Linked DNA regions of Homo sapiens. The protein of the gene in region 1 interacts with the protein of each later gene in a pairwise test. Each region holds a gene or a part of one and is shown in the gene's direction. Other genes may lie near its edges.

Region 1 (7,889 bases):
CCTATGGGGTGGGATCTTCTCACTTAGATTGAGAACAGTTAGGCTATTGAGGTGTATTAATTTGCTAGGACATAAAAAACACTATAGATAGCATAAACGACAAACATTTATTTTCTCACAGCTCTGGAGTCTGGAAGCCCAAGATCAAGATATTGGCAGGTTTGCTTTCTCCTGAGGCTTCTCTCCTTAGCTTACAGATGGCCACCTTCTCACTGTGGCATAAATGGCCTTTTCTCTACACACATTTTTGCTTTCTCTTCCTCTTTCTCTTCTTTTTCCGTGCTTTTAGAGACAGGGTCTCACTCTGTCACCCAGGCAGGAGTGCAGTGGTGCAGTCATAGTCTGTGGCGGCCTTGAACTCCTGGGCACAAGCAGTCCTGCCACCTCAGTCTCCCAAGTAGCTGGGATGACAGGTGCATGCCACCATGCCTAGCTAATATTTTAATTTTTTGTAGAGACAGGGTCTCACTATGTTGCCCAGGCTGGTCATTGGTCTCTAACTCCTGGGCTCAAGTGATCCTCTTGCTTTGGTGTCCAAATGCTGGGATTACAGGTGAGCACCACCCTGCCTGGCCTCTCTTCTTCTTATGAGAACAACAGTCTTATTGGATTGTGGCCCCACCATTATGACCTCATTTAAACTTAATTACCTTTTTAAAGGACTTATCTCCAAATATAGTCACAATGAGGATTAGAGCGTCAATATAAGAATTTGGGGGAACACACTTCATTGTGTTATATAATAGAATAGATTTCAAAGCATTTTTTTCTTTAGATTTCCAACAAAGTGATAACTAGTACAGTGTGTACATGGCCAGAGGATGGGGTGGAAAACATCTGCTTGGCTTCTATGACCCAAAGTGTCCCAATCTGATTTCTTTTTTTTCACATATTCCACATGCCCTATTTCTTTTTTCCTCTTTCCTGAAGTGGTAATTTACCACCTGTGTGAAAACAACACAATCCCTTACTGCATTTCAAAGGCACAGAAAGTTTCTGGTAATGTGCAGAGTGAGTTAACTAAGACGAGGGGTAGTTTGCCGGGGGTTGGGTGGGATTGGGTAGGGTGTGACCTGGTTTTAAAGAATTAATTTACGTTAATTACATTGGGACTTTGCTCCCTTGTGCTCCTTGCTCTTCCTGGGCCTCAGTTCTTTGCTCTTTCCTTTAGGGAATTCCTGGCTTCCCTTTCTAGGAGCCAAGGTCTTTGGAATAGAGGGTGGTAGGCCAGTCCTTTATCTCTGCTCTGTTCTTCCTGCCACTGAGTGAGGCACAGATGGAAGTCTCACTCTTAGAAAAGAGAAATAAAAGTGATCCCTATAACAGAAAGAGAAGGGCTGGATGTGCTGGTTCATGCCCATAATCCCAGTACTTTGGGAGGCTGAGGTGGGAGGATCACTTGAGCCCAGGAGTTTGAGACCAGCCTGGGCAACATGAAGATACCCCATCTCTAAAAAAATAAAAATAAAAAATAGGCGAATGCGGTGGTGCGTGCCTGTAGTCCTAGCTACTTGGGAGGCAGAGGAAAGAGGATCGCTTGAGCCTAGGAGATTGAGGCTGCAGTGAGCTGAGATTGAGCCACTACACTCCAGCCTGGGTGGCAGAGCGAGACCCTATCTAAAAACAAACAAACAAACAACAACAAAAAAAAAACAGGGAAAAACCCTAAAATGTTTTAATTTCAGTAATTGGAGAAAATGGAAGACCAAAGATTATGGTGATAAGGGGAGTAGATATTTTATTTTATTTTTTGAGATAGGGTCTCACTCTGTCACTCAGACTGGAGTGCAGTGGCTCCATCACAGCTCACTGCAGCCTTGACTTCCTGGGCTCAGGTGATTCTCCTGCCTCAGCCTCCCTAGTAGCTGGGACCACAGATGCCACCACACCTGGCTAATTTTTGTATTTTTTGTAGAGATGAGACTTCACCATGTTGCTCAGGCTGGTCTCAAACTCCTGGGCTCAAGTAATCCTCCTGTCTTGGCTTCCCAAAGTGCTGGGATTACAGGTCTGAGGCACTGTGCCTGGCCAGGGATAGATATTTTTAAAACCGCATATTTAGCTTGTGATCTAGAGAGAATAAGAGATCTCAGTTGAGAGGGCAGGAATAAAATACGTTCCACAAGGCAATACTGAGTGACTTAGAACCTATTCCTGCCACTTTTTTTTAGTTTCCTTGATCTTGCGGGTGGAGGGTAAGTGTGTTACTAAGTATGTTCCTGGACAAGGAGTCCCTCTGAAGATAGAAGTGATGAGAAGATAGAAGAAAAGGTAATAAGGCATTAATGAACTCTAATCACACTAAGATTGATGATCGTCTGGTTCCTGTCTATAGGAATGCTACAGGAACTCTTTTACCCTAAAAGTAAATAATAAAGCACAGTTCCAGTTTCTTTTATGTGGATACAAGGTGGCAGTGACTAGAAAAGATAAGAACAGTGCTGTGCTCTAGCATAAAAACGTAATTATGCTATGCAATATGGTAGCCACTAACCACATGTGACTATCGAGAAGTTACAATGTAATTAGTATGATTAGGTAACTGAATTATTTTTATTATATTTCATCTTAATTAATTTTATTACTTTTAAATAGCCACACATGGCTAGTGCCTTCTGTTTTGAACAGTGTGGGATTCATTGGTATTGATAGGCTGGATATACCTCTAGTTTTTATTTTGATTCAATTTATGGTTAGGTGAGTCTAGAAAGAACAAAAGAGAAAGAGACAATGGAGATTAATCATAATAGCCAGCATTTAATGTGTGCTTATTATATATCCAGGCATTTACCTAAACATGTAAAAGGTATTCTGTATAATCCTTGCAAAAATACTAAGATTATTGCTATTTTACAGATGAAAAAATTGAAGCATAATAAGAATTTTACTTGCCTAGAATCACACGAGTAAATAAGGGGTGAAGATGGCATTCATACACAGGTAGTTTTATTAGAGCCCATTCATTTACACTACATAGATTCAGGAATGAGGTGGCATGGAGTGACTGGGGCCATGGTTCCCAAACTGTGCCAAAGTACAAGCTCACAAGGGTATTGTGGAATATTTTTAATTTTCAGAGGAAACACAGCAATATTTTATATTTCTTAAACACTGTGTGACCTATTAACTTGAGGTGATTCACAGTTGGAACATTAGATTGTGCTACATTCCTTTTGATGACAATATATCTGGCCAGGTGTGGTAGCTCATGCCTATACTCTCAGCACTTTGAGAGGCCGAGGTGGGCAGATCAGTTGAAGTCAGGAGTTCAAGGCCAGCTTGGCCAATATGGCAAAACCCCGTCTCTACTAAAAATACAAAAATTAGCCAGGCATGGTGGCAGGCACCTGTAATCCCAGCTACTCGGGAGGCTGAGGCAAAAGAATGGCTCAAACCCAGGCAGCAGAGATTGCAGTGAGGCAAGATCGTGCTACTGTACTCCAGCCTGGGTTACAGAGTGAAACCCTGTCTCAAAAATATATATATATATAAAGACAACATATCTTTACAAAAGATGGTTTTAGAAGGTCCCTCTGATAAAAATTAAGTATTAAGTAAAAAAAAAAAGTACTGTGTAAAAATCAGCATGGAACAGAAAATGAGGGTGGCAGCATTGGATTCCTGCATGTGAGAAGTTGAGTAGTGCCAAACAGATGTACATATCCCGTAAGTAACTGTTTGTGGTTATTTAAGAACGAAATTTTTTTTTCAATTTGTGTGCATTGTTATTTTCAAAGTGCTAGTAAGTTCTCAGGAACCAGCTACTCACTCTGTTGCCCAGGCTGGAGTGCAATGGTGTGATCTCAGGTCACTGCAACCTCCACCTCCCGGGTTCAAGCCATTCTCCCTGCCTCAGCCTCCCAAGTAGCTGGGATTACAGGCGCCTGCCACCACGCCCAGCTAATTTTTTGTATTTTTAGTACAGATGGGGTTTTGCCTTGTTGGCCAGGCTGGTCTCCGACACCTGACCTCAGGTGATCCACCCACCTCGGCCTCCCAAAGTGCTGGGATTACCGGCGTGAGCCACCGCGCCTGGCCTTTATATATAAATTTTTTTTTAATTTTTTAAATTAAAAATTAAATGTAAATTTAATGTAAAAATGTAAATTAAATGTAAAAATTAAATTGTAAATGTGGGCAGAAGTAATAGTTGTATTCTACCAAAGACACGCTATTTATGTTATATTCTGGTACCCGTGTATTCCGATAACAGAATTTTCTTCGTGGGAGGAGTCCTCTAGTTACCTGAATTGCTTGGATCAATATTGCGCAGATCAAGGGATTATCTGTGTCCCTACCCACCAAATCCATCCTTATCCTTTCTGTCGGCATCTAGGACCCCGGAATTCTTGCCTGAGAACTTTTTCTTCTCCCGGTCTGGGCCTGGATGTGCTCTCCTAAACCCTGTATCCTCCAAGTTAGCACTGTTGCCGGGGGCGACCCAGCTTCCCTTGTCCAGGGAGCAACTCAGACACAGTCTCGCTTCATTTTTATTCTGGGGTTGTACAATCTAAGGTATGAAATTTTTCCTTTTTGAATCTCTCACGGTTTGCTATTGACACAGCTGGAATGAGGTTGCAAGGAGAGGGCTGGGGGCTCTCCTCCCTACTTCTAGCCCTATTTCCGCATAGGCCTTCTTGCTGGGAACTCCTGCCCTGCGGACTGGAATGGGTACCGAGATGAAATGCTGGGTGCGCTCCGGCTCCCCCCGCCCGCCCCGGGGCAGAAGGTTTAGGGCTGGGAAGAACTCTGATTAGGTTTACAGCCCAGGTTCAGCCGATTGAATTAGGGTGTGTCACCATGGAGACAGGGCCGGCCCGCGTGCTCGCTTGCCATTGGCTGGGGACTCCAGGGCAAGGGATATAAGCCAGAGCCTAGACCAGTGAGCCAACTGTGCGAACCAGACCCGGCAGCCTTGCTCAGTTCAGCATAGCGGAGCGGATCCGATCGGATCGGAGCGGATCGGAGCACACCGGAGCAGGCTCATCGAGAAGGCGTCTGCGAGACCATGGAGAACGGGTGAGGAGGGCACCAGGCCCGCAGGACCCTTGGGGAGGGGCAGGTGCTGTGACCCGGGAACCTGGCACACTGGGCCCAGAGGGAGCTGGCGGAGGGAGCGAGCGCCCAGGGGATGCAGAGAGGCCTGGCACTGAGCCTAGTGTCGGGAGCAAGGCGGCAGAGTCATGCGGCAGCCAGCGCGGGCAGGGACGCACGCGGGAATCGAGCTGGGGTGGCGCCACCGGAGCAGGAAGGGGACAGGTCGGTGCGGTCTAAGCTACTCCGTAAAAGCAGCCGTTGTGTGTCTCCGTGTGTGTGTTAGGGGAACAAGTGGAGAGTGAGTATATGTATATATCCCTCACTCCATACCAGGAGGAGGTCTCCTCACCCCCTGCGCTCTTCATAAATTCCCATGCTAGGGTCTGGGTAAAGCTGCGAGGTACTTTTGGTGCTCAAATTCGGAGTTCCTCCTTTAGAGGCAAGATTACTCACCTCCTTTGCCAGTTGCACTCCTCCCTTCCTTCCAGACTGGCAGTATGATTAACTCGGTGGGAAGTGACTGCTAAGTGGAGACGGAAATCAGTCACCGAACTGAGCAACAGTCCTGTGCTCACTTCCCCCACCCCACGCCTTTGAAAACTCTTCTCTCGGCTTGGGTCCTGGATATCCCAGTCCAAGTGACCTGCATTAGGCATCACAGTTGCTTTTGGATGCCCAGGGAGCCAGGGTGTTCTTGAGGGGACTGATAGCCAATGAGGAAGTGCTGTGAGATGTGGCTAGACATGCCATGTGGCGGCAGCTTCACACATTCATTTCCTTTGCACCTTTTGGGGATGCCATTTGATTAACATTTTACCAGCTTAATTGCTTCTCTCCATTGTCCTGTGGCTCCGTTGACCAGCCCCCAACCTACCTGATCCAACTGCTTCCCTGAGGGTAGCCTGGTGTATTGTGCAATCATGTCTGGTTTCCCGGGCTCTGCTTTCCAAGTAAAAAATTTCCTGTGAAAGCTTGGTTAGTTGTGTTCAGCTCTGTCACACCTCATTGCCACCTCTGAAAGCAACGTTTGGTCTTCCCAGATGGATGTGAGAGAACTGGACTTGGAACTGGGAGAAAAGTAACACGGGTTGATTCTTGCTAGTGTAGGGGTTCTGGGTAAGTGCCCTGAGGTTTCTGAAGAGCAAAGATCCTCGGTGGAGAGAAAGGAAACTGGGAGGAGGCAGGGAGGGGGAAGGACAGGAAGAAGACCACAGGCAGGTGGAAAGCAGGAGAAAGATTCAAATACTTTGTGTAACAGAGCCATAGGTCTTTGGAAGTTGTTAGCAAGTATTCAATTCATTTTCAGATTGAGCCTATAAGATAGATGGGGCCAATTTACATCCCTTGTTTATACCTGAGAAAATAATTTAAAGCACAAATTACATGCCTAAAAAGACAATATTGGGACTAGAATCTAGGTCGAATTCTGCTTCCCTCCAGACCAGCAATTCCTAAACCTGGTTTTATTTTATTTTATTTTTATTTATTTATTTTGGAGTCGGAGTCTCGCTCTGTCTCCCAGGCTGGAGTTCAGTGGAGCGATCTTGGCTCACTGCAACCTCTGCCTCCCGGGTTCACACCATTCTACTGCCTCAGCCTCCCGTGTAGCTAGGACTACAGGGGCCCGCCACCACGCCCGGCTAATTTTTTTTTTTTTTTTTTTTTTTTTGTATTTTTAGTAGAGACGGGGTTTCAACATGTTAGCCAGGATGGTCTCGATCTCCTGACCTCGTGATCCGCCCACCTCGGCCTCCCAAAGTGCTGGGGTTACAGGCATGAGCCACCGCGCCCAGCCCCTAAACCTGGTTTTAAAATCAAAATTACATGGGCTTCAGAATCTGTTTTTTGTGGGGGTTTTGTGTGTGTGTGTGTGTGTGTTTTTTATAGGGTCTCACTCTGTCACCAGGCTGGAGTGCCAGAATCTGTTTTTCTAACAAGCTTCTGCTGAGAATTTGTGTAGTCAGTCCTGGTTTAACCTTTGACAACCAGTACTGTGGACTGGGTCTGCTTTTTTGTACAGCAGTTTATCTAGTTTTTTGTCTGGAATTAACCCCCTTGTGATCCAGGGAGCTAAGAATGGCACGTAGACCTCTACCAGGGGTGGTCCCATTGTGTTTTATTGGTTAAAACAAAAAAGAAATGTAGCCCTTAAGTCTTTGGCTGAGGAAGGAACTGGAGGAATGAGGGTTCAAAAGGAAATTTGAGTTTATCTCTGCCTTCATAGTAGTTGGTCTTAATTACATTTTGAATGTCTTTGGGGAACAGGTAAGGTAATAAGGGGGATTTTACTAGGTGGGCACCACCCTCAGGAAGGGCTTAATCCCATTTTGAGTACTCTTCTTGGGCTCCCTCCTGGCCAAGCCCTTTTACCCTCCCTAATTTGATTATTTCCTTGCACTTCCCCGTACACTCTGGCCCCTTCCTCTCTAAACCTTTGTCATAAGGATAAGTATGCAGCTTGCCAGTGTTCAGTGGATCCAACACTGGAGTTGGGCCTGTTAGTAGAAACAGGCTTTATTAACTTTTGCCAGGCTCTAGAATGGAGGTAGTTTCATATCAGACTTGTAGTGGGCTTGATTCAGAAAGAAGGGTGGCTGAGTAGATGGAAGAGCATAGTATGGCCTTTCCCTCTGTGCCAGCTTCTCCGTCCCTGCTGCCTCAGTATACCTGCCAGCCTTTTTGCACCGAAGGTCATTTGTCTGTGATGCCCTTGGAATGGGAGCAGAATTCACCTTGATATTTTTTCTCCCCCAGATACACCTATGAAGATTATAAGAACACTGCAGAATGGCTTCTGTCTCACACTAAGCACCGACCTCAAGTTGCAATAATCTGTGGTTCTGGATTAGGAG
Region 2 (7,000 bases), on another chromosome or scaffold:
TCTATGCCAACTACTGTACTAGACTTGGAATAATGGAGAAAATTCAGGCACAGTCCTTGCTCTTAGGGAGCTCACATGATTACTCATTGATGAATATCTCTCTCCCCTGATAGACTGCAAATCCATGAGGACAGGGACTCTGTCTTGTTCTGTGCCATAGTTCCACAGCATTCCAGCATGATGTCTGGTACTCAGCATGCAAACAGTGCGTATTGGTTGAATGAATAATAGTACAGCTAATAGCAGCTGAGAGCTTCCTCTGTGCTAGACACGATTCTAGGTGCCTTCCACACTTTGACAACCTTATGCAGCGTGTTAACACTGCATTCCCCTTGCACCCTGGAGATTGAGCCCAGAGAAGATAAGGACAGAGGGGACACATTCCAAGATAGATCCCCCAGTGGATGCCTGAAGCCACAGATAGTAACAAACCCTATATATACTGTGTTTTTTCCTATACACACATACCTATGGTAAAGTTTAATTTATAAATTAGGCACAGTAAAAAATTAAAGATAACTAATAAAATAGAATAATTATGACAATATACTGTAATAAAAGTTATGTGAATGTGGTCTCTCTCTCTCTCCTCTCTCTAAATATCTTCTTGTACTCACCTATTCTCAAACTGTAGATAACTGAAATTGCAGAAAGCAAAACTGTGGATAAGGTTGGGGCTACTGCAACTCAGCCAAGGACTTACAGTGGCAGACCTGGAATGCAAACCCAGGCAGTCTGATACCAGGGTTTCTCCACCTGTGTTCTGCCACATGGGATGGATAGGATGGATGGGTGTACGGATGGACGGACGGACAGACGGATGGACAAATGGATTGAAGGATGGGTAGGGGAGTCATCAGATGTGTTCTCCAACACCATGTACAGTACCTGGCACATAGCAAATCTATGATAAACATTTGATAGTAAGTGAATAATGAATGTCAGTGCCAGTGTTGGTGTGGCCTTAGGTTATTCTTTCCAGGTGTTGTATCTGATGCTGGCCTCATATGTTTGTCTCACTTGGCTGACTAGAAAATCCAAGAGAGGTCCCAAGCAACTAGCCCCTCACCCCAACATCATCCGGGTTCTCCGCGCCTTCACCTCTTCCGTGCCGCTGCTGCCAGGGGCCCTGGTCGACTACCCTGATGTGCTGCCCTCACGCCTCCACCCTGAAGGCCTGGGCCATGGCCGGACGCTGTTCCTCGTTATGAAGAAGTAAGTGACAGCAGCGCGGCAGGGCCTGGAGCTGATACATCTCCCAAGGGGAGCTGGTTCCTGCCCTCCATGTGCACCTTGATCAGGGGGTTTTGGAGAACAGGGTCATCACCCTTCCGGAGAAGAAAGCCATGCAAAGGGAACATATCTGCCCTGGAGAGCATTTTCCCTGTAGGACGATTTTTCATGGAAACAAACTCTCATCTTCATCCAGAACATACTTGTCACCTAGTCCTTTTGGTCCATTTGACTGTTAACCTTTTCTGTGGCTGGACTTATCTGTTTTTAACATAAAAACCGTTCTCCTTCCTCACCCTCTGTATCCCCTAACTTTGCTATAGTGGGTATTTTATTTTAAGGAAATAATTATCTGCACCATTACTTTGAATATAGGGAGCCCCAACTCTTACTTCCTAATTTGAGGATGGTGAGTGGGAGGGAACAGAAAGGATGCTGGGGAAAAGTGGGAATCAAAGTGCTCCTGGAAGGGGAAGAGGAACGGCCTAACCCTAACAGTGATTAAGGTTATTAGGAGGCCGGGAATGGTGGCTGACGCCTGTAATCCCAGCACTTTGGAAGGCGGAGGTGGGTAGATCACTTGAGGTCAGGAGTTTGAGACCAGCCTGGCCAACATGATGAAACCCTGTATCTACTAAACATACAAAAATTAGCCTGGTGTGGTGGCGGGCACCTATAATCCCAGCTACTCGGGAGGCTGAGGTAGGAGAATTGCTTGAACCTGGAAGGTGGAGGTTGCAGTGAGCCAAGATCGTGCTACTGCACTCCAGCTTGGCGACAGAGTGAGACTCCATCTCAAAAAAAAAAAAAAAAACGTATTGGGAGTCGTCGATGTGTGGTAGCCAGAGGCCCTCTCCCCTCTCCGCCAGCTATCCCTGTACCCTGCGCCAGTACCTTTGTGTGAACACACCCAGCCCCCGCCTCGCCGCCATGATGCTGCTGCAGCTGCTGGAAGGCGTGGACCATCTGGTTCAACAGGGCATCGCGCACAGAGACCTGAAATCCGACAACATCCTTGTGGAGCTGGACCCAGGTAGGAACCTGCTGCACCATCAGAGCTCTCCAGGGGCACTAGAGGGTGGGTCAGGAGCATTTAGGACTGACTCTTCAGGTCCTCTCTGGTTTTGTGTTCTAAGTCATGTCTTTATTTAGCTCCGCACACAAGAGGTTAGCAATCTCTCCCTTAGAACGGGGTTTTTTTTTCTCTCTTTGCAGAGAGACAGCACTTCCCAAGTTCCTTTCTCTAGCCCACTTAAAGAACAAGGACCTCAGTGCTGCAAGTTTTCCTAGGTAAATAAAGAGGCCCGGCACAGTGGCTGACACCTGTAATCCCAACACTTTGGGAGGCTTGCTTGAGGATTGCTTGAGGCCAGCAGTTTGAGACCAGCCTGGGAAACAGAGTGAGATCCCTTCTCTACAAAAAAAAAATATGTTTTAAATTAGCCGGAAAAAAAGTTAGCCAGGCATGGTGGCATGCACCTGTAGCCCCAGCTACTTGGGAGGCTGAGGTCGGAGGATCACTTGAGCCTAGGAGTTAAGAGTCTGCAATGAGCTATGAATGTGCCACTGTACTCCAGCCTGGGCAGCAGAGTGAGATCCTATCTCAAAAAAATAATAAAAAATAATAAAGTAAAAGAGAAGTAGACTTTAGCTCATTATAAAAAATAACTTTCGGCCGGGGGTAGTGGCTCACGCCTGTAATCCCAGCACTTTGAGAGGCTGAGGCGGGCAGATCATGAGGTCAAGAGATCGAGACCATCCTGGCCAACATGGTGAAACCCCATCTCTACTAAAAATACAAAAATTAGCTGGGCATGGTGGCGGGCGCCTGTAATCTCAGCTACTTGGGAAGCTGAGGCAGGAGAATTGCTTGAACCCGGGAGGCGGAGGTTGTAGTGAGCCGAGATTGTGCCACTGCATTCCAGCCTGGCGACAGAGTGAGAGTCCATCTCAAAATAAATTAATTAATTAATTAAATTTTTCAAACAATGAAAGCTGTCCAAATGTAAGCCCAGTTGCCTCTGGAAATGAGTTGCCTACCACTGGAAGCATTCAAGTAGAAGCTGAATGGCCACTTGCCTAGGAAAATTGTAAGGAGATTCATACATCTGATAAATTTTTGAACTAGAAGATTTAAAATAATTGACTAGAGGAACTGGCTTTTATTATTTCTTTATTTATTTACTTATTTATTTATTTATTTATTTGAGACAGAATCTTGCTTTGTTGCCCAGGCTGGAGTGCAGTGGCGCCATCTCAGCTCACTGCAACCTCTGCTTCCCAGGTTCAAGCAATTCTCGTGCCTCCGCCTCCTGAGTAGCTAGGATTACAGGCAGGTGCCACCACGCCTAGCTAATTTTTGATTTTTTTTTTTTTTTTTTTTTGAGACTGAGTCTCGCTCTGTCACCCAGGCTGGAGTGCAATGGCATGATCTCGGCTCACTGCAAGCTCTACCTCCCAGGTTCACACCATTCTCCTGCTTCAGCCTCCCGAGTAGCTGGGACTACAGGCGCCCACCACCACGCCCGGCTAATTTTTTTGTATTTTTAGTACAGACGGGGTTTCACCATGTTAGCCAGGATGGTCTCTATCTCCTGACTTCGTGATCCACCTGCTTCGGCCTCCCAAAGCGCTGGGATTATTATTTTTAGTGGAGATGGGGTTTCACTGTTGGCCAGGCTGGTCTCAAACTCCTGGCCTCAAGTGATCCACCCACCTCAGCCTCCAAAATGTTGGGATTACAGGTATGAGCCACCACGCCCAGCTGGGAGTTGGCTTTTTTTTTTTTTTTTTTTTTTGAGACGGAGTCTCACTCTGTCGCCCAGGCTGGAGTGCAGTGGCATGATCTTGGCTCACTGCAACCCCTGCCTATCGGGTTCAAGCAATTCTCCCGCCTCAGCCTCCTGAGTAGCTGGGATTACAGGCACACGCCACTACACCTGGCTGATTTTTGTATTTTTAGTAGAGACGGGGTTTCACCATGTTGGTCAGGCTGATCTGGAACTCCTGACTTCGTGATCCGCCTGCCTCGGCCTCCCAAAGTTCTGGGATTACAGGCGTGAGCCACTGCGCCCAGCCAGGAACTGGCTTTTTAAAGGAATTTTGTGTGGACCCTTTTACAAATAACCAATTCTTTTTTTATTTTTTCTGAGACAGAGTCTCGCTGTGTTGCTCAGGCTGAAGTGATTCTCCTGTCTCAGCCTCCTTCACCTCCCAGGTTCAAGTAATTCTCCTGTCTCAGCCTCCCGAGTAGCTGGGATACAGGCACACACCACCATGCCTGGCTAGTTTTTTTGTATTTTTAGTAGAGACAGGGGTTTCACCATGTTGGCCAGGCTGGTCTTGAACTCCTGACCTCAGGTGATCTACCCGCCTCGGCCTCCCAAAATGTTGGCATTACAGGCCACCACACCCGGCAATAACTGATTCTTAATGCACCTGGTTCTTAGGTTTGGATTTGGGGTTTCAAATTCAAATCAAAGTCTCCTGGGGTATAAGGGCCCTTGGAGATCATTTGAACCAAGCTCTAGCTCCTTTGGTCTTGGGGACAGCTCCAATTACTAGAACATGATTTAAATTGAGCCACACAGTCCTTTGCCTGGGGATTTTGCAGCCTGTACTTACTGGAGGCATTTCCGTGTTCGCACAGCAGGCCCTTCTGATCAGCTCTCAGGCCTTGCTGACCTCCTGGGCCAACACTGAGCCATTAGCCCCTGTCAGCTATGTCTTGCTGGTGGCTTTAGTAGGGACATAGGAGGGCCTCTCAGAGGGAAGGAGGGGAGGAGAAATGGTCACTTTGCTTGCTCCTTCCCAGACGGCTGCCCCTGGCTGGTGATCGCAGATTTTGGCTGCTGCCTGGCTGATGAGAGCATCGGCCTGCAGTTGCCCTTCAGCAGCTGGTACGTGGATCGGGGCGGAAACGGCTGTCTGATGGCCCCAGAGGTGAGTCCCGAGTGTGTCATGCGCCATCGGCAGCCCTTCCCCCACATGTCCACTGAATGCAGGAGACTCGATGCCTTGTGATAACCCAACACCTCCATCTTTTCTGACCCATAATTTGGCACAAGTTCCTTCCCTGCCACTTTGCTTTCCTCCGGCGTTCCCTCATGTTCCAGGAGAATGCAAGTCCTGTCACATAAACCAGGTGGTCTAAGCAGACCCCTTCTGGGTCTGAGCCACAGCTCACTCAAGCTCTGGGTTCCTTGGGACAGAGTTCAGATTAGCCCATGGATCAGGTGATGTGCAGGACATGAAAAGGTTAGATGGGCGGGCAGCGTGATGTCTCACCCACTGCTTCTGAGCAGGTGTCCACGGCCCGTCCTGGCCCCAGGGCAGTGATTGACTACAGCAAGGCTGATGCCTGGGCAGTGGGAGCCATCGCCTATGAAATCTTCGGGCTTGTCAATCCCTTCTACGGCCAGGGCAAGGCCCACCTTGAAAGCCGCAGCTACCAAGAGGCTCAGCTACCTGCACTGCCCGAGTCAGTGCCTCCAGACGTGAGACAGTTGGTGAGGGCACTGCTCCAGCGAGAGGCCAGCAAGGTGAGGCTGTCCCCGGCTTCGAGGGGACGGTGTGGGTAGAAACCTCTGTTCTCGTTCCAGAGTGAAGGTCAGGTTTGGGCCAGAGCCACAGTGACAGATCCTCTGTGTTAGGAAGGTAAAGGCTAGTTACAAGAGAACAAAAAACAGATTTTAATGTAGGTAGGAGTAGGAGCACTAGCCACCACAGCATAGTCAGAATCCTAGCAGTTCAACTCCTGTGGCTTTTTTAGTTGCTGAAAAAGTTGTTCAGAGGCCAGACACGGTGGCTTACACCTATAATCACAGCACTTTGGGAGGCTGAGGCGGGTGGATCACTTGGGACCAGGAGTTCCAGTCCAGCCTGGCCAACATGGTAAAACCCCGTCTGTACTAAAAATACAAAAATTAGCTGAGTGTCGTGGCACACGCCTGTAATTCCAGGTACTCGGGAGGCTGAAGCAGGAGAATCGTTTGAACCCTGGAGGCAGAGGTTGCAGTGAGCCAAGATCGCGCCACTGCACTCTGGCCTAGGTGACAGTGCAAGTCTTTGTCTCAAAAAAAAAAAAAAAAAAAAAAGGCTATTCAGAGAGAGAAAAGGAGGCATTTTTGAGAAATGTTTAATGGAGATGTAGCTCATGGAAGCAGCTGAGAACTGATCAGAGAGAGATGGAAAACATCTCCTGAGAGCAGATCTGGACATTGTGAAATTAATATAAAGGAATGCAAAGGCAGACCTATCCGAAGCCATAATTGGAGTGGCAGCTGGCTCAGGGGCAGGCTTAGTGCAAAGAGCTGAGCCATACCTGCACCCCAGCACTGTTCTGCCACTCCGTTAACTGCTCTCTGTACGTGGCCTGCTATCTTGGTGCGCAGTGAAGGTTAGAACAACAGCTGCAACCAGTTATGAAATGATAGAGGAGACTACTTACCTGGTTCAAGGGACCAGATAGCTGTGCACAAGAGGCACTAGGCTTTCCACCCAGGGGGAAAGGCTATTTCAACAATGCATGCTGCCCCATGCAGAGGTGTACACATGGAAAAGCTTGGAGCACGGGCAGGGGACAGGCAGTATTTGTCACCTGAGTGAAGGGCATCAGTAGGAGATAGGGTAGAGGAAGAATTGGGTTGGGACCAGAGAAGGGAAGACCCTCACTAACAAAGCAGGCTTTGGGTTGAGACTGTGTTAACAGATGTTCTAGCTACAGCTTCCCTTCCTGTTGCAGAGACCATCTGCCCGAGTAGCCGCA
Region 3 (4,822 bases), on another chromosome or scaffold:
AAATTCAGATTTCCAGATTCTCTTGAAAAACGAGGCACGTCAACACTGGTCTCACTCACATGGCAACCACCAGGGAAGCTGTGTGCAGGATGCCCTCTTTAGGTGGGACAAGACATTCTATTCGCCACAGTCCCCATCACTCCCTATCGCCTCCCTGACCCAGAGGCAAAGGGTCAGTTGTCATTTAGCATCTTATACCCAGCTCAGCCCCCGTTGTTTATGTGCCTGCCTGGTACCTGGGGGGATCCGGATTTGAGACTGTGCTCACAGCTCTTCTGGTTCTATGATCCTCTAGGCTTATTCCATGTGGCTAACGGTCATGATTCAAACATTCCATTTTCTCATGTTTGATGAATTCTGCATGTCTGAACTCCACTGTATCTAAACTAGGATGTGATGTCCCCATCATCTAGAAGTTCTACCTTGATCCCAGGTAGCTGAGTCCTGCCACACAGGCCCCTTCCCTGCAAATGAGTCAGGCAGGGCGCCTCCATTGAGAGGGCTGCTGGGAGTGGAGAAAGTGAAGAAAGTGAGACAGGAGGCCCCCGGTTGCATCTCCTCTGCCCCTCCCATCCCCTCCTCCAGTGTGGTCCCGGAACAGCAAGCCCGTGCACACCACCATCCTGAATCCCCACATCCACCTGATGGGCGACGAGTCAGCCTGCATCGCCTACATCCGCATCACGCAGTACCTGGACGCTGGCGGCATCCCACGCACCGCCCAGTCGGAGGAGACCCGTGTCTGGCACCGCCGGGATGGCAAATGGCAGATCGTCCACTTCCACAGATCTGGGGCGCCCTCCGTCCTGCCCCAGTAAGAATCCCTCCTTCCTGCCTCCCAGGGTAATGTAAAGGATGGGAGTGTTGCCCTGGAGGGGGTTACGTCGGGGAAGCTGCTGCCTTCAGCTCTGAAAGGCTGCAGAGTGGGGTGGGGAGACCCCAAGAAGGGGGCCAGGCCTGCAGGTCTGGGGGAAGAGCTGGGCAGGAGCCACCAGGGACCGCATGGACTCCATCTAAAGCGGCAGGGTGGGTGGGTTGCCCAAGCAGGAAACACCATGCCCTGAGAAGCACCCCGTGTGTGTCTTACAGCTGAGGGACCAGGCTGGGGTCGCTGCGTTGCTGTGCCGCAGAGATCCACTCTGTCCGTGGAGTGGAGCTGCTGGTTCTCCCAGGTGGATTTTGCTGGAATTCTCCCATGTCATCACCCCACCACCGTCACTTCTGTACCTGCATCAAGAAAACCTGCTTGTTCACAAAAGTCATCGCAACTTCAGAGCGAACGGCCACATCTCCCCACCTCTCACCCCCACCCTCTCCCCTGCCAGGCTGGGGCTTCCTCAGGCATGGGTGTCCACAGCACTGGCCCCCTCTCCCCAGCCTCAGCTGCTGTCCGCCTGATCTGTCTTGGGCTGTAGGCTAGAATGCCCGGGCTGGTGCCCACCAGGGGCTGGGGAGAAGGAGGGGTGGCATGATGAGGAAGGCAGCATCCGTCCGTCCCTCTCCCAGACCTCTCCTCTTCCAGTGTCCCCGGGGAAGGGCAGATGACACTCCCTTCCCCCTAAGCCAACCGCACTGAAGGAGTGGGGAGAAGAGCATACGCCAGGAGCCTCCTGCCTCAAAGTGCTCCCCTAAGTCTTCTTCCTCCTGTGCTGACCTCAGGGTGGTCTGACCCTTCCCTCGGTGTGGGGGATGTGGCCCTCTCAGGTGCCCCTACTTGCTTTCTGCTTCCTTCTGGTGAAGTCCACCTCCAACATTAACCTGCCCACCCCACCCCCGTCATCCCTGGAGAATTCCAGCTTTGTCGTATCTCAGAGAGGGAATCTAATTGTTTTTGGGGGGCAAAAGAAAGCAACGTTTAGGTATCACTTCTACTTGGACCGCATGCCTTTTTATAGCCAAATTTCTGTGTATTTCGTAAATGGATTTCGCGTTAATGGATATTTATGTAATAACTAGACTTCTCAGATTATTGTGAGAAGGGTCAGGTTGGAAGGGGTGTAGGAAGAGGGGTGAGGGGTAGTTTTTTTCTGTTCTAGTTTTTTTTTTTTTTTTTGTCATCTCTGAGGTGGACCTTGTCACCTGTGGTTATTGGGGCCAAGGTGGACTCAGCTCCGGGGAGAAGGGCCTCTCTGCCATTTCGGTCCCAAGGTGAGCTGACACAGGCGTTCCTTTTGGGACTGTGGAAGCATCAGATGCCAGCACTGACTCAGGAACAGCAAGTCAGGGCAGAGAGGAGGAGGGAGGCTGTCAGGATGGAAATACCTGGACTTTTCTTTGCTTCCCTCGCAAACTGGGGTCTTCTCTACCGAACTTCCCAGGATTTCATCTCACCATATCTGTGTGCCGCCCCCAGCACCCCCCACCCACCTCTGGGGGGCCCGTGAGCGTGTGTCTTCATTGCCTCTCTCCCCTTGGCGTCTGATGACCACAGCAAAGCACTGGGAATTTCTACTCTTCATGCCTCATCCTGCAGCCTCGGGTTCGCATTCTCTCTTTCTTTTCCTCTTTCCCTCTTTCCCTGGGATTGACTCTGAGTGGAATACCTTGGCACATCCACTAGGATCTACTGTCTGCACTGTTTTCTTTGCATGACTTTATACGCAGTAAGTATGTTGAAAACAAACAAAAAGAAGAAAACACTCAACAAAACCAATCTACATGTTTTGGACTAAAAAAAAAAATAGAGGTTGTATTCTCAGTGTCCGACTCGGAATTATGTTGCTGCCTCTCTGTGCTTTTGGCCTCTGTGTGGCCGTGTTTTGCCAGCATGAGATACTGTCCCCTCTGGAGGATTTTAGGGGAGGAAGAGCCACGTCCCCAGGGATTGGAGGAGGCTCCGGTACCCTCGACCCTCCTGGGTGTTGGTTGGAGCAGAACTGGTGAGGATGTTTGATCCGAGATTTTCTGAGCTCTCCCCAATCACCAGCTGTCTGCTGGGTTCTTTTCTCAAGTCCTGCTGCCCAGGCCCAGGTGAGACAGGCAACGCCAGGTCTGCAGGCCAGGAGAGATGCTGCCCAGGCCTCCTGGTTTCCAAGCTGGTCCATCACTGGCCTCTGTCCTTGGCAGAGACCTTGCTGCCCAGGCCCAGGGGCAGGCTCTTGGCCTGCCCCAGGCCCAGAGGGCTTCCCAGTAAGGCCCAGTGATCCCATTATCCCAGGGGCAAAACCACCTGTCCCCTTTTGAGCTGCCAGTTCCCTACAGCCATCCCCAGTCAAGGGTGAGGGTGTGGCCTTCACCAGGGGCTGCTGTAATTACCGAGCAAGGTCTGAGCTCTTCTTCAGCCTCAGTTCCCTCATTGGTTAAAAGGGTTCTTTGTTCCCATCCAGCCGATGAAGGAGCAAACGTCTGGCTATGTGAAGCCTAATTTACCTGCAGGAACTGGCAGGGATAGTCACTGGCTGGACTCCTGTTTACTTCTAGACCTGGTCAGGCTCCATCCCCTCCCCCACCTGCCCCTGATTCCCCTCGTCGGTGCCTGTCAACTGCTTTTCAGCAGTGGACTGCAGGGGAAAGAGCAGTGATTTGGGGTGAGTAGGCTTCAATTCCCAGCTCTGACCAGACTTGCTGTGTGACCTTGGGCAAGTTCCTTTCCCTCTTTGGAGCTTGGTTTCCCTGCCAGAGGAAACTGAGCTGGAGGAGCCTGAGGTCCTGCCTTTCATTGGCTGACACACCTCCTGTCCACTGTGTCACTCTCCAAGTGCCAGAGAAGTGGAGGCAGATCGCTACCCCAGGCTGAGATGGCCCCCACTGTGAAGGCCACGCCTGTGGGTGGGCAGCCACCTGGTGCCACCACAGGGCACCAGGGATGATCCTGATGTGGCAGGCAGGGGAGACTCACAGAAAAATCTGCCCAGAGCCTACCCTCACCAGACAAACTCTGTGCTCCTCCAAAACATCCTTTAGATGCAAAATAATAATAATAATAATAATAAATAAATAAATAAAAATCCAAACCCAAGTCAAAACCTTGGCTCCAGCATGAAAACACGTTTACAGGAAAGTGTTCTCCTGGGTTTGTGCCCACCATGGTGCGAATCCTGACCCAAGGCCTCCTGTCTCCCTTCAAAGGGAGACCCTTTTGGGGGATGAGTTTGCCAGACTCCCCGTGCTGGTTTCTTTGTTACTATTTGTTTGGGGTTTTGTTTTAGTTCTTTTTTTTTTTCTTTTCTTTTTTAAAAATATGTGGCTGTGAACTTGAATGAACACTGCTCAAACTTTCTGCTATTGGGGGGGGCGGGTGGGATGGGAAGAAGGGGCGTTTGTTTTATTCTTGGTGTTTTCAGTGCAATAAATAGCTACAAACTTCTGTGCACTCTGTGTGTCCCTGTCTTGGTCAAGCCCCTGAGCTGGGAGGTTTTTGTTAGTTTCCAGTTCCAGATCTGCCCCATGGCAAAATAAAAGTCCTGGTCTTCATTCTGATTGGACCAACTGTGGTCACATGCTCAAGGCTGAGCCAGTCACTGTGGGATTATGCCTGGACCACATGCCCCACCTGTAGAGCCAGGGATGGGGTCAGCTTTCTCCCAGGCACATGGGGGTACCCTCAACAAGAGCAAAGGGGTGGCTATGGGTTGCCTGAGCAGCCAAGAGCTAAAGCCTCTCTTGGGCCCTGGGGCAAGGTTCTTCTCCTCTGGGCCTCAGTTTCCCTGTACAATGTGGAGGTTATTCCACAAGTCCCCCACCCATTCTCTTCCCTCAGCCCAGCCTCACAGATGAGTGCTCAGGACTCACCATGCCAGAGAGTGCTTTAAAGAATGGGGAAGGGGAGGAAGGGTCTCTTTACCCATAAACATATGTCTGGACCTAGTGCCTGGGACACTTT
Region 4 (7,039 bases), on another chromosome or scaffold:
TGGGCTCAGACACTGTCCAGCTTCTTGCCCTCTGACCTTTGAGTGAGGTTAAGAGGACACTGGCAGCACAGGTTAGGGCTGGAAGCAGAAGCTGCCTGAAGGAAGCAGGCCTAGAGGCGATGTTAAGGCCACCACCTTCAGGGAGAAGAGAAGGGAAGGCTTTCTAGGGGAATACTTGCATCTGAGAAAGAGCCCTGTGCTGGAGTCAATGTCGGTCCTTTTTCCTCTGCTTCGCTAATGTCTTGGGTAAACTAGGCTTGGTTATTTTGACCATTTTCCTCCTCAGTTTCTCTAAGGTGGGGAGACCGGCTTCTGCCATGATTACTTAAAGGCACATTTATGATACTGAAATGTGATTGTAGGGGTGAAAATAATTTGCTGGCAGATATCAGGACTTTTCTGCCCATGTTCAAGGCTCACGCCTGTAATCCCAGCACTGTGGGAGGCCGAGGCGGGTGGATCACTTGAGGTCAGGAGTTCGAAACCAGCCTGGTCCACATGGGGAAACCCCGTCTCTACTAAAACTACAAAAATTCACTGGGCGTGGTGGCAGATGCCTGTAGTCCTGGCTACTCAAGAGGCTGAGGCAGGAGAATCGCTTGAACCCCGGAGGCGGAGGTTGCAGTGAGCCGAGATCGCGCCATTGCACTCCAGCCTGGGGGACAGAGTGAGACTCCATCTAAAAAAAAAAAAAAAAAAGGCAAAGTTTAGAAGTTGAGCCCCTTCTTAAAGGCCAGGTCCAAGAAGAGGGATTCCCTAATTCATGCCACACTGAATTTCCTCCTGATTTCTCATAAGCTCTGTCTGTCTGCGCCATCATACCTGCTTTTTCCTCTGCCTGAAATGATCTTCCCCAACTCTTGTCCTTGCCTGGGAAGCTCTTATTCCATTCTTTAACATCCAAGGAATACCTCTTGGTATTCTCAGGCTATGGTGGGAAGAGTTTCTTCTGAGCTTGGAGGCAGCACTTACTGCCTTGTGTTAGAATTGCTCAACTGTCTCATCTTCCTGTTTGCTCCTTGAGGGCATGGATCAAGTTCTCTTGTGTTTCCCTGGCACTTGGGAGGCCCTTAATGAGTATTTGTGGACCAGCCACACACCTGGAAGAAGAGAGGCCCAGAGGGTAGGAAGCACATTCACATTATATAAAATGTATTTGTAAGGAGGAATACAGTGAACCCACACATGGATAGTGAAAATGAGATGGCTCATTCGGTAGTGAGGATGCAAGCGGCATGGCCTACAGATAGTGGAGCCCTGATTTGCCTGTGCTATATGGGAGTTATTTTCAATGAAGAGCTTGGATTCTATTTTACAGAATCCTCCCTTTTAGGGCTATCATTCTGGTTTATGCTAATGGTATTGTTTTGGGGAAAAATCCTTTGGAATAAAGCACAAAGCCTAACAGGATTTACAGGTTTATTTTCCTTCCAACAAGCTCTCTCTTCATAATTCCTACATTTTAGAAGCCAGGGAGTATTCAGTGTCCTGATTTGAGACTGAAAATAAAGTGTCTATTACAGCACAAGGCCCTGGGACAAAAGGCCTCCTTTGGGGGTGGAATACCGTTCAGCTTTAGATCTCTTTTGAGTAGATTCTTCCATGATACACTTGCTTGGGAAAGAATTGGCTGGTTGATTCTGAAGTTAGGATGTTTGACCTGTGTGCTTCCAGAATAAGATGAGAAGGCAAAGAATGTGCTGCTTCAGGTTGGCTTTTATGTAGCTGAAGAGTTGCTCGGGGCCTTGGGTTGGCTCAATAAGGGACGTGACCTTGAAAAGCTCTTCCTGGTTCCACTTGGCGTCTTTTCTTAGGGAGCTCTGTGCCCAGTCTCTGGCCGCTTTTAGTTCATAAATAGCTTGCATGGTTAGAGGCACAGAAGGTGGAGGCTTTGCGAGGGGGAAGGAATGGAGGAAAGGGGTTGGTGAGAAGAGTAAGGAGGCGGAATTTGGAGGGATGAAATAAAAAGCTGTCTGATTAGGTAATGCACGTTTACAAAACAAAATTTGTACAAAAGCGTATGTGGTAACAAATTTCCTTCCCTCTCATGCCCCCTGTTCACCCAGAGCTCCTTTCCGGGTGGCATCCGTTGTTATCAATATTTTTGTATATCTTTCCAGAAACAGTCTATGCATGTACAACATGTATGTACATAAAATTGGAAACTTGAATTATAAATGGCTTCCTGTTACCTGTAGTCCCTGGTATCCTGAATAATGAGATTAACTTTAGCTCTAAATTATATTTGTGATATTATGATGGTGAATTGTTAGAAAATTACCTGAAGTATCATAATATAAAATAGATGATTACTTTTTTTCCAGGCCAGGTGAGAAAAACCTCATTCTCCTTTCACTTCAAGCGTTCTTGCAGAGCAGGAGAGCAGCCTGATGTAGCCCCCTTGTAACTTGGAGAGATGCTGGAGCACAGTTCCCTTGAGATGTGGAGTCCAGGCTTGTAAGAGCATCAGAATACAGTGATCATGGATCTTGGTTTTAATTTGTGTTCTGTCTGAGAATGTTTTCTCTATGTTCTGTAAAATGAAGTTAATGGTATGCTTAATAAATTGCTTTGAGACTTGGGATCCACGAGGCAGATCCTTATAGCAACGAACATCCCAAGGCAAAAGGTGGATGTTGTAGGAACATTTCATTGTCAGATTTTGGTCTGTTCCTCCTTAGAGATGACAGCCATCTTCATAGTGTCATTGTTGAATCCCAGGGCAGAGATAGTTGGAGCCAGCTTTGTTCCACCCACTGTAATGGAGGGACACAGGGGGCAGTCTTATCATAATCTGGAGAGCAGGTAATCCAAAAAATAATCGATTTGCTTTTGCTATGTATTTATGTAGTCTTTTTTTTAAAGCATTCGTTTACCTTCCTAATTAAGTTTTGCTCAGGTGAATATTAAAATGAGTTTGCATTCTTTGATCTATTGATAAGGGAAATGGCTGGCCTAAATGTATTCAGGGAAAGGCAGTTTGGAGTTTAGAATTTGCGACAATAATTCAGATGCAGATAATTGAGAGTTGATAAAAATGTATTAAATGTTTTAAATGAATAAAAATGTATTAAAACCTGGGGGCATTACATTGACCTTTCCTCCATTTATTTGGATTTAAATAAATGTGATGGAAAGTAAAAGAGAGCTCACTGCATTTTTGGTTTGAATATTCAGGGATTAGTATTTCTCCAGAGGTGGTCTGGGCTGTGGGGGTGAGGCATTCTCTGTTGATGAGCATGGGACTTTCCTATGCATTTTCTAGGTATGCCAGACACTGTTGGCAGATGGTATAGTCAGTCTAGCCACGTACATGCAAAAATCAATTTCCCTCAATTTAAAATGAGCCACAGTTAATTTCGACCTAATTTATTGGCTTATCGACCTGTGAACCCTGGGCCTTCGAAGAAGTGGCATGGGCGGCCTTCAAGCGCTGAAGTGGCTGATGAAGCTAAAATCCAGAAAAGGCAGGGTGGGCTGCTGAGCAAGATCAAGATTTGAGTTTCCTCCTGTGTTATTGTGAGATGCTCAGTTTTTTTTAACTGTAACATGACCAATGCTTTGTGCATTTTATGGTGGGTTCCGTAAAAATAGGACTGCGTAACGATCACAAGTACACTAGTGTGTTAAAAAATAATTACAAAGTTCTGTTATCCACTGGGTAACTGTTTATTATAATGGTAACATCCATGCCCATAGCACTGCTACTAGCCAAGAGCTGGAAGATCCTATCTTCCTGGCCGCGTCCTGGACCCTCCGATGTGGCACTGTTCAATAGATCTTTCTGTGATAGTGATGTTTTCTATCTGTGCTGTTCACCATGTTCACTAGTCAGATCTGGCCATTGAGCAGGTGAAATGTGGCAAGTGTGACTGAAGACTTGAAGTGTCTTTCATTTAATTTTAACGAATTTAAAGTTGAAATAGCCACATGTGGCTCTTGGCTACTGTGTAGACAGCACAAGCTTTGACAAGGCCTCTTCTTCCCACCTGTAGGCAACCTCTGCTTCACCCAAGAGAGAAGTTCCTGCAAAGACCTGCTCGTGTAGGCAGGGCAAACAGGGCAATAAAAGCAAGAGTGGAGGGCTTGGGTCTAGACCCTAGGTATTGGTGGCTGCTGACTGCCAAGTTGAGTGTCAGGAGACAGTGGTCCTTCTTTCCTAGGTAGGAACTCACCAGGGGGACCGTGGAGGGCCAAGTGGGTCCGGTGGTTGGCTCTAGGGCATGCCTCTGCACAGTTGCCTCCTTCTGTCAGTCACTTAGTCAATGAAGGCTGGCTATTCATAGGGTGAACCAGATCTCTGTGGCTTCACTTCTCATCTGGCCTTGCGCAAACACTGCACTTGTATCGGGCTTTGCTAAGGTGGAGCGCAGACCCTGCACGTTCTGTTTAGCAATGAAAGATGTAAACAGTGCCTTAACAGTGGGGCCATCTCCCTGCCCTGCCCTTTGCTTCCTGTGCTTTTGTTGACTTACCTTGATGTAGCTGGGTCTGTCTTTCTTCCCTTCAACCCTCCAGATTGGCATGAAGACAAACACTACAGGCGTGTGGTCTTCATCTTTGCATATAAACCTCCCCCACTTCTTGGCTGACCTTTTAACTTAGCTTGCCATTGCTGTTGCTGCTGCTGCAGGCTCTTAGCTTGGAAAATCAGGACCCTTCACAATGATTTATCTCCAGTCCCCTGAATTAGATTCAAAACACAGCTACGAATTCTCAGAAAGGCAGGCTGATGTGATTATATCCCAAATCTGAGTGGCTGACAAGGACAATAAAAAGATGTACCTATATCAAATGCATTTGTGCCGTGTAGAGACCAATATGTTGTTTATTATCTCCCCCCCTTTCTGGGGGTTTTTTAAATGAAGAAGGTAACTGATGTGACCTCTATTATTTAGAAGAGAGACTAGCCTGTTGAGTAGAAACCCTGGGGGAAGATGACTAGGGTGAATCTTACATGAAATAAATGTGGGGGTGAATCAATGGGTGGGCCCTCAGTTGGGATTTTAATATTTTAGGGATACTGAGATGATTTCCTTCTGACTTTGGGGGGCTGGTGAGCTGAGGTGTAGTGTCATGATGAATTTTTTTTTTTTTTTTTTTTGAGACAGAGTCTCGCTCCGTCACCCAGCTGGAGTGCAGTGGCTCTATCTCGGCTCACTGCAACCTCTGCCTCCCAGGTTCAGGCGATTCTTGTGCCTCAGCCTCCTGAGTAGCTGGGATTACAGGTGCGCACCACCACGCCCGGCTAATTGTTTTGTATTTTTAGTAGAGATGAGGTTTCACCATATTGGCCAGGCTGGTCTCGAACTCCTGACCTCGTGATTCACCCACCTTGGCCTCCCAAAATGCTGGGATTACAGGTGTGAGCCACCGTGCCTGGCCTTGGTGAAATTTTTAACTCTGTGCCCAGAGGCATTGGAAAGGCTGGTATGATCTGGTTGAGCCTGGAGGGCCCTGGGTTAAGAGCCACCTGTGGAGAAAGGCTAGCTTGGGGACTGTGGCTGGGAAGACTTTAATAGGTACCTGTGAGATAGCAAGCTATAGGGTTAAGGTCCCAGATAGTTAAGGACCCCATTTCTCTATTAGCCCAGGAGACACATGCGAGACAGTTCCACCTGTCTCTGCCCCAGGGACCTGGGGAGAAAGGCCAGTGCTGATCTGCCCAAGGATCTCAGCCAAGGAGCCCGAGATGGCAGGGAGTGGGGACAGAGCAGAGTGGGGTGAGTGTCCTGTGAAACCAGAAGTGTTTGGAAGGACTTGCATGCTTTGAACCTGTGCTCAATTAATTGAGTAACCTGAGACTCTGTACCTATGACTTACCTCATCTGTGTACATTTAGTTCCCTGAAATTCTCTCACTGAGTGGTTAAAAAAAAAAAAAATCTGCAGTTAACTGTGCACATGGTTTGCTGAATTTGGCAAGGTGTGCTGTTGGTGGTGGTGGTGATGGGTGGGCTGGAGGGGGACGGTTACTGCAGAAACAAGGCCTTCAATCTCTAGAGGAGAAAAATGAAGCAGTGGATGTGGAAAGTTGGTTAGAGGTGAAAGAGCTATCTAAACAGAGCTGGGGGAGTTTAGCTAGCAGACCAGAGCCTGTGGGACGTCCGCCTGTTGCCTCACCTCCTGGTAGCCCAGAGGGCATCTCCTATTACTGAGAAATTGGCCAAGCCATGGGTTTAATGCACTCCCCCTTCTCCATTAGTCTTGTTTATAGCTGCCCTCACAGGGTGGTGAAGAAGCCACTGGTAGGGTATAGAGGCCTTCGGTTCTGGGATGTAATGTTTACATGCTTTTCTCTTGGAGTTAGGAAAGTGCTAGAAAACAGTGTCGCCTCTGGGCTGGAGCCTTGGGACCTGGAGGTTGGGTTTCCCCAGGTTTCAGAGTTCGGCTGGGAATCAAGGAGAAAACTGCCTGTGAGTTTCAGTTAGGCAGGAGCTCCTAGCTTGACTCAGGCGTGCAGTGTTTTGTCATTTTATATATGTCATCGCTTGCTCTTAGGCCTTTCGCTAATGTTAATGTTCTATGTGGAGCCGTTTTGTGAGGAATGGCTTATTTTGGTTGAGAGGCATTTGGTAATGAAAAGAAATGATGTTTTAGTGCGTCGAAGTTTATGAAATGACATCCACAGGCTGCATCTCATTTGATTCTTACGACAATCTTGAAAAATGGGGAAGATAAGAATGATTATTCATCTCATTTCAGAGATGAGTATCTTGAAGCTTGAAAAGGTGAAGTGACTTACCCGTAGTTAGACAGGTGGTAAACCGGAGAGAACAAGACTCAAACCAACCCGCTAACTTGTTTCAGATTTATGCAGGCATATTTGTCTATCCTAAGTAATCTAGTGAAATTTTTGATCTCAAGCAGGGATCCACAGCTTTTTTGCAGTACTTTTTTTTCTCCACCTTTAAAACCTGGAGATCTCACATAATTCCACTTTCTCCTGGCCACACTGATCTTGTAATTTTTCAAACACAGCAAGTCTCAAGGCCCTTCTCCTTCCTGGCTTCTGCTCTGCCCTGCCTTAGGTCTGGGTC

Evidence for each region.
Region 2: the proteins of PNP (region 1) and PINK1 interact in binary tests that used the Homo sapiens proteins (3 or more experiments, as listed by UniProt).
Region 3: the proteins of PNP (region 1) and CAMK2A interact in binary tests that used the Homo sapiens proteins (3 or more experiments, as listed by UniProt).
Region 4: the proteins of PNP (region 1) and SORL1 interact in binary tests that used the Homo sapiens proteins (3 or more experiments, as listed by UniProt).

The regions. Positions count from the first base shown.
Region 1 is NC_000014.9:20,464,517-20,472,405, forward strand, and holds the start of PNP (purine nucleoside phosphorylase), read left to right. Parts: upstream 1-4,889; 5' UTR 4,890-5,008; coding exon 5,009-5,019; intron 5,020-7,791; coding exon 7,792-7,889. UniProt on the Homo sapiens protein: Catalyzes the phosphorolytic breakdown of the N-glycosidic bond in the beta-(deoxy)ribonucleoside molecules, with the formation of the corresponding free purine bases and pentose-1-phosphate.
Region 2 is NC_000001.11:20,643,458-20,650,457, forward strand, and holds part of PINK1 (serine/threonine-protein kinase PINK1, mitochondrial precursor), read left to right. Parts: intron 1-1,032; coding exon 1,033-1,215; intron 1,216-2,102; coding exon 2,103-2,266; intron 2,267-4,857; exon of another isoform or gene 4,858-5,047; coding exon 5,048-5,175; exon of another isoform or gene 5,176-5,537; coding exon 5,538-5,774; exon of another isoform or gene 5,775-6,976; coding exon 6,977-7,000. UniProt on the Homo sapiens protein: Serine/threonine-protein kinase which acts as a sensor of mitochondrial damage and protects against mitochondrial dysfunction during cellular stress.
Region 3 is NC_000005.10:150,218,981-150,223,802, reverse strand, and holds the end of CAMK2A (calcium/calmodulin-dependent protein kinase type II subunit alpha), read left to right. Parts: intron 1-585; coding exon 586-814; coding exon of another isoform or gene 815-818; exon of another isoform or gene 819-843; intron 844-1,089; coding exon 1,090-1,093; 3' UTR 1,094-4,312; downstream 4,313-4,822. UniProt on the Homo sapiens protein: Calcium/calmodulin-dependent protein kinase that functions autonomously after Ca(2+)/calmodulin-binding and autophosphorylation, and is involved in various processes, such as synaptic plasticity, neurotransmitter release and long-term potentiation.
Region 4 is NC_000011.10:121,455,311-121,462,349, forward strand, and holds part of SORL1 (sortilin-related receptor preproprotein), read left to right. Parts: intron 1-7,039. UniProt on the Homo sapiens protein: Sorting receptor that directs several proteins to their correct location within the cell. Along with AP-1 complex, involved Golgi apparatus - endosome sorting.